2 linked regions of the Homo sapiens genome follow. The protein of the gene in region 1 interacts with the protein of each later gene in a pairwise test. Each region holds a gene or a part of one and is shown in the gene's direction. Other genes may lie near its edges.

Region 1 (3,648 bases):
GGTCCCCACCTCCACAGTAGGAGCCAGAGCCAGTCCTCCCAGGAAGGGGTTAACTGCCAGCCCCAGCCGTGAGGGAGGGGACTGGGCTGGACCATTTTCCTCACTGCCGCCTCCACCTCGGTTTTCCTGAATGGTTCTGTCGTCCTGGGGTGGGGAGGGAAGGGAAGGAAGAAGGGCGGGAGGAAGGAGGGAGGGAAGAGGGAGAGAGGAGGAGTGTGGGAAGAGGAAGGAAAAAAGAGAGCGAGACAGCGAGAGGAAGAGAAAGATGTCACTGTCTCTAATCTCCCTGTCATTTTTATTTCCAGCAGGCGCGGGGCGAAGGAGCTGCTAGAACAATGCTGAGGCGGGTGAGGTGAGGAGCAGCCCCTCGCGGCAGCCCCGACAGAGTGTCTGGAACAGGTGATTGGAGGAGCCGGAGACCCAGGCACCTGGGCATCCTTCCCCTCGCCTCTGCCAGGCCCCGCGCCCCTAAAAGGTGGGAAAACCATGGCGACCAATTTCAGTGACATCGTCAAGCAAGGCTACGTGAAGATGAAGAGCAGGAAGCTCGGGGTGAGTGACCCTGAGCTGCGGAGGGGCCCTGCCAAGGGATGGGGGCCCGAGGACTCGGTCCCAGGCTTGGAGGCATGGCGCGTGGGGCACGCGGCTGCCCTCCGGCTGCCGGGCATCGTGCATCTGTGGTCTCGGGGCTCCTCGCCAGCGTGCTGCCTGGCATGTGCCTGGGCTGGGTTCTGCCTGCTGCAGCCCCCGCCCCAGAGGGCTGGCTGGCATCCCAACAGCTGGGCCAGTGGTGGTGGTAGTGGCAGCAATGGTGGCCACCGATGGGCAGGCGGCTCCCCTGCTATTGTTGAAGTTGTCACCACAGCAGCAGCAGGGGCGGCTGGCAAGGCCGGGCTGTGTCTGAGCTGAGAAGCAGCGTCTCACTTCCCCTGGCCTCCTCTCCCTTCCGTTTGCCCCCCACCCCCGGCCTCCCCTCACCTCTCCTGGCCTCTTTTCTTTTAGGTCATCCTCTCCCCTTGCTTCTGACTGCTTTCCGTGTGCAGATATTTAGTAAATTTTTGGTTGTCGAGTTTAATGTTAAAGAAGTGTTTGAAAAGGGGAGTGGTTGGCTGGGCGAGACGGGGTGGTGTGAGGCACTGAAGCTGATATTTATGTGGTTTCCAAATGAGAACTTTGGGCAGAATGGTCCAGTGCTCTGGGACAGGCTGCTTCCCTCCAAGTTGTTGGTGGGTGACTCTGTGCTTGCTTGGTGCTTGGCCCTGAACTGGGGGCTTGGAGGGGCTACAGAGAAGAGGTCTTACTGGGCATGCATCCTGTCCTACCCTCTGTAGACCCCCAACTGGTGAAGACCCCCTAGAAGACAGGAGCAGAGGGGATCAACTTCATGATCTCGGCGAGGCTGTCTGAGAGCTGCCTCTATTCCTCTGCCAGGCCCCCCTGCCAAAGACAGGTCTGGCAGTTGCCCCTTCCCCTGTAGGAAGGACAGCCCTGGTGACTGAGGTCACCCAAGTCTTGTGTTTGACCCAGGACTCCTGTCCCCTTCTCCCTTCTCTCTCCCATTGCCTTGAAGGGGGCGGGTCGGCTCAGGCTGCTCAAGGATCCCTGGCTCAGCCTGAGTGGGGTTGGGGGGCATGCGGAGTGGGAGAGGGATCTGCCACCCAGCTTCCCTACCTGGGTACCAGACAGAGCAGGGCTGGTCTTGGAGAAGGTGGTTCTGGCCCCACTTCCCCTCCTGTGCCTCCCTGCCCTGGGGCTCAACCTAGTTGAGACTGGGCCCTGGCAGCCATCGGCTACTTTGCTCTTCCTCTGAAAGGGGGATCAGCCCACTGACTTGGAGCACAGAACAAAGAGAGAAGCTGAGGCTGAGGTAGGGAGGCCAAGGAAGCAGAGGCTTCGCTTCTAACATCACTTCTCATTCCTATGGCCCCAGACTTAGCAGGTCCCCAGGGGCCAGCTGGGCTGAGGCCTTGCCCAGGGCAGAGTGTGCCAGGAAGGCACCAGCCACAAGGGCAGCCACTTGGGCTCAGTATCAAACCTGTTCCAGAGGGAGACTGAGTGGCTGACAGGTGGGCACAGCCTGGATGGGGAGGTGGGGCATAGCCAGGCCCTATCCATGCAGGGAATTCTCTTCCCTCTGAAGCCAGGAGCCTCACTTCCCCTGGTGTGAGAGGCTGTGGTCCCTCCCCAGCAGCCATTCTCATCTCAGCCCACAGAGGTGAGGGGGGAGGGGCTGAAAGAGATCAGGAGCCGGCTCTCCTACCTGCCAGGGCCTTTCTCCCGCGGCAGAGCTGTGGCAGAGTGTTTCTGAAGCACTGATCAAAGCCCTGTGCGAAGTGGGAAGGAGGGCTCTTGAGCGCGTGGCTCCCTGGGGCTGTGAATGTGTATCCTGTAACCAGGCAACCGGCATGCTCAGGCCCCCAGGCCTTCTGCCCCTGATGCTGCGGGCTGCATGGAGCCCACCCTGGCAGGGTGTATCTGGGTCGGCAGCATCCATCCATTCATCCATCCATTCATTCACGGTTCCTTCATATGGTCATTCACTTGTTTAGCATGGCTGTTAATGAGGCTACCAGGATATGAGTGAGGATTCTGTGGATAAAATTCAGTGTCTGTCTTAAGGGAGCGCTGCAGCTGAGAGCTGAGGGCTGCTGTGGTTTAGGTGGGTAGGACAGGGGCCAAGCCAGGGTCAGGGGTGCAGGAGCAGACATGCCTCCTAGGGTCCCAGATAGGAGCCAGAAATGGCCTGGCTCTGAGTGGTATCTTGAAATGGGGGCTGCCTAGGGCCACTGCACCCTGGGACCCTGCCTGCCAAGGACCTAGTGTACGCATGGCACAGTAGGGCCGAGGAGGGGTGGGGCCTAGAGGCCCCCTGGCCTCCTCTGCTGTGCTCTCGGCCACCACTCAGTCTCCCTACTGTTTCCAGTAAGAGGAACACCAGAGATGCCTGGGGAACAGGCTCTGTCGGGCTTTTGGAATGCCCGCTGGAAGGAGTAGGTAAACCCCAGCCACAGACTTTGGGCAGAAAAAAGTCTAGGCAGGAGGGAGGGGTCATGCAAGGGCAGCTCTGGCTGGTGGCTGGGGCCAACTCCCTCTCCACCACCCATGAATGATAGGCCAGTCTGTCCCTTCAATCCTAGAGTGGTCACTCCCCTCTGCTCCCCACCCCCTTGGGGGAGTCCCTGAAGCTACAGAGAATGTAGGTAGTTTAAGGTACAGGGGCATCAGCAGTGGCCAGGGCCAGGAGGGAAGGCACCATGCTGTGGGAGGAGCCTCAGATTCCTAGCTCCACCCCTTTACCTCAAACAGCTTTGGGTTCCCAGCTGGAGCAGGGCCCCTTACATTTCAGGGTTGGTAAGAGAATGAAAAGAGAGGGTGAGTGAAAGCCCCAGGAGACAAGAGTGGGGGTTACCTTTGTAAAGACCCTCACCTGACTCAGAGAACTAGGGGCACGGGGATGTACAGGTGGGCAGGGGGAAGGGTCTAATCCCTATCCCCAGGAGACCCCTCTGTTGTGGCTGGCACTGCCTGAGCCCTGGCCAGATCCTGCAGTGGGCTGTGAGGGTCTGCCCTGGATCTAGACAGCCTGCTGCAAATACCAGCATCACCATTCCTTAGTGTTTTGATGCCTCCCTTTCCCCATCTATAAAA
Region 2 (3,648 bases), on another chromosome or scaffold:
GACAAAGCAAGACTCCATCTTGAAAAAAAATAATTAAGCTAGCAGACTGGGCAGGTGGCTCACGCCTATAATCCCAGCACTTTGGGAGGCCGAGGTGGGTGGATCACCTGAAGTCAGGAGTTTGAGACCAGCCTGGCCAACATGGTGAAATACCCCATCTCTACTAAAAGTACAAAAATTAGCTAGGCATGGTGGCTCATGCCTGTAGTCCCAGCTAATTGGGAGGCTGAGGCACGAGAATCGCTTGAACCTGAGAGGTGGAGGTTGCAGTGAGCCCAGATCACGACACTGCACTCTAGCCTGGGCAACAGCATGAGACTTGGTCTCAAAAAAAATAAGTCAATAAGACAAAAAAAAAAATTCAGCTAGCAATCTTGAATTTTACTGATTTACTTGAATATATAATTAACTTTAAATTTATATGCTTGTTCATGTACATGTAAGGAAAATACATTCCATAAAAAATCACAGATATAGTACTTAGATCTTTAAACTGTAGGGTCTAGGAAAATAATAAATGATCGCCTCTTTTTTTGTTGTTGTTGTTGAGATGGAGTCTCTCTCTGTTGCCCAGGCTAGAGTGCAGTGGTGCGATCTCGGCTCACTGCAACCTCTGCCTCCTGAGTTCAAGCAATTCTCCTGCTTCAGCCTCCTGAGTAGCTGGTATTACAGGTGCCCACCACCTCTCCTGGCTAATTTTTGTATTTTTAATAGAGACGGAGTTTTACCATCTTGGCCAGGCTGGTCTTGAACTCCTGACCTCGTGATCCACCCGCCTTGGCCTCCCAAAGTGCTGGGATTACAGGCGTGAGCTACCGTGCCTGGCTGATTGCCTCTTTTTTAGTAGTAGAAGTGAGGTAAATGCCTGTTGGCAGTGATGCTAAGGGTCAAATAAGTCACCAGCAAATACACAGCACACATCTCATGATGTGCTCCAGCTGGCATCTCATTTGAGGGCAGAAAATCACTCCCTTTTGTCTAAAAACTAGTGTTCAGGAACTGATCCTGCAGCTCCCACCCGGGCTCTGGCATCACTCTCTCCCAGCATTTGCCAAACCGCAGTGAGAAGAAAGGCAGCTTGTCTTTGCACAAAGAAGCAAGTTTACTTGGGTTTTTTGAGATAGGGTCTTGCTCTGTCGCTCAGGCTGTAGTGCAGTGGTGCGATCATGGCTCACTGCAGCCTTCACTTCCTGGGCTCAGGCGATCCTCCCACCTCAGCCTTCCAAGTAGCTGGGACAACAGGTGCATACCACCACACTTGGCCAATTTTTCAATTTTTTTGTAGAGACGGTGTCTTGCTGTGTTGTCCAGGCTGGTCTCAAACTCCTGGCCACATGCAATCCTCCTGCCTCTGCCTTGCTTGGGTTTTAATATTTGGAGCTAACCTGGGATTTGGGAGTTCCTGGTGTACCCCCACAGCAGCCAAGGACACTGAAGGTGCGTGCTTCAGAAATGGAGAAGCCCCATGTTAATGCCCACAGATATTGACTAACTTGTGCAAGTCCTCGCCTTTAGTCCTGTTATGAACCCAAGAAGGTGGTGGTGTTACTAACTTGTCCCAGATTACTGTGTACACTGGGATATATTTATTTAATTTAATTAGTTTATTTATTTATTTATTTATTTATTTATTTATTTTTGAGACAGAGTCTCCCTTTGTTGCCCAGTCTGGAGTGCAGTGGCACGGATCTTGGCTCACTGCAACTCCGTCTCCCGGGTTCAAGCAATTCTCCTGCCTCAGCCTCCCAAGTAGCTGGGATTACAGGCACACGCCCCCACACCCCGTTAATTTTATATTTTTAGTACAGACAGGGTTTCACCACGTTGGCCAGGCTGGTCTCGAACTCCTGAGCTCAGGTGACCTGCCTGCCTCGGCCTCCTAAAGTGCTGGGATTACAGGCATGAGCCACCACATCTGGCCCTACACTGGGATTTAAAGGGATCCCTTCTTGCCTTCAACCCACATTGCCTTGAGATTAGAAGTGGCTTTGAGATTGAAGGTTAATATAAACATCTGAAGCTTAGATAAATGTACGTTTGTGTGGACTCCTTTGAGATCCTACCTTCAGGTGTATATGCTCACACATTTGTAATAGCACGTGCATCAGGCTGTTCCCTCCTACTCGAATGTCTTATTTTCTATTTAACATAATCTAGTAGATGAAAAAGCATGGCTTGACCTGGGTAACAGCCTTATGAGGAATATGGCCTTTTGGACTGTTGGACTGTTGAGGTTCTAGTAAGTGTGGACCTGGCAGAAAGTGACCAGAACTTATGCTAATTTATTCATTTTATTTTATTTTTATTTTTTGAGATAGGATCTCACTCTGTTGCCCAGGCTGGAGTGTAGTGGCACCATCTTGGCTCATTGCAACCTCCTCCTTCTAGGCTCAAGCGATCCTCCCACCTCAGCCTCCCCAGCAGCCAGGACTGCAGGTGCACACCACCATGCCCAGCTAATTTTTATTTTATTTTTTGGTAGAGATGCGGTTTCACCATGTTGGCCAGGCTGGTCTTGAACTCCTGGCCTCAAGTGATCTGCCTGCCTCGGCTTCCCAAAGTGCTGGAATTACAGGCCTGAGCCACTGGACCTGGCCCAGAACTTATGCTAATTCAAAGTAAATTTTGGTATTTAAAGAGGCCAGCCTTGTAACTGCAAATCTGTGAAGTGACAATGTTGCAACATGGTAGTGAGGTAGGAGGCAGGGCTCAACTCCAGAAGCCAGAAGCGGGGCTTGGGACAGCGGACCAAACTGAGGACTAACTAAAACAGGGATAGGATGGAAGCAGCTTTTCATAAAACACATAAAACAGTGTGCCATATCAGTTTACCATTGCCATGGCAACACCTGGAGTTAGCACCCCTTTCCATGGCAATGACCAGAGGACCCAAAAGTTACTACCCCTTCCCTAGAAATGTCTGCATAAACCACCCGTTAGCCGGGCATGGTGGCTCACGCCTGTAATCCCAGCACTTTGGGAGGCTGAGGTGGGTGGATCACCTGAGGTCAGGAGTTCGAGACCAGCCTGGCCAACATGGTGAAACCCATCTCTACCAAAAATACAAAAATTAGCTGGGCGTGGTGGTGGGCACCTGTAGTCTCAGCTACTCAGGAGACTGAGGCAGGAGAATCATTTGAATCCGGAGGCAGAGGTTGCAGTGAGCCAAGATCGTGCTGCCATTGCACTCCAGCCTGGGTGACAAGAGCAAAACTCTGTCTGAATAAACAAACAAACAAACAAACAAAAACAAAAAAACCACCCCTTACTCTGCATGTAACTAGAAGTGGGTATAAATATGACTACAAAACTGCCCTGAGCTGCTACTTTCTGCCTATGGGGTAGCTCTTTTCTGCGGGAGCAGTCACAGAGCTGTGACACTGCTTCTTCAATAAAGCTGTTTTCTTCTCCCTCTGGCTTGCCCTTGAATTCTTTCCTGGGCAAAGCCAAGAACCTCTGCAGGCTAATCCCCGCTCTGGGGCTCACCTGCCCTACATGAGTAGTGCAAATTGTAAATTTGCTAACAACAAATTGCCTCACATATTTTATTTTATTTATTTATTTTTTGAGATGGATTCTTGCTCTGTCACCTAGGCTGGAGTGCAGTAGCGAGATTTCAGCTTGCTGCAACCTCCACCTCCCGGGTTC

The links.
Region 2: the proteins of DOK4 (region 1) and RBP7 interact in a two-hybrid assay, tested with the Homo sapiens proteins (one large-scale study listed by BioGRID and IntAct).

The regions. Positions count from the first base shown.
Region 1 is NC_000016.10:57,476,346-57,479,993, reverse strand, and holds part of DOK4 (docking protein 4), read left to right. Parts: intron 1-236; exon of another isoform or gene 237-305; 5' UTR 306-486; coding exon 487-552; intron 553-3,648. UniProt on the Homo sapiens protein: DOK proteins are enzymatically inert adaptor or scaffolding proteins. They provide a docking platform for the assembly of multimolecular signaling complexes.
Region 2 is NC_000001.11:10,000,207-10,003,854, forward strand, and holds part of RBP7 (retinoid-binding protein 7), read left to right. Parts: intron 1-3,648. UniProt on the Homo sapiens protein: Intracellular transport of retinol.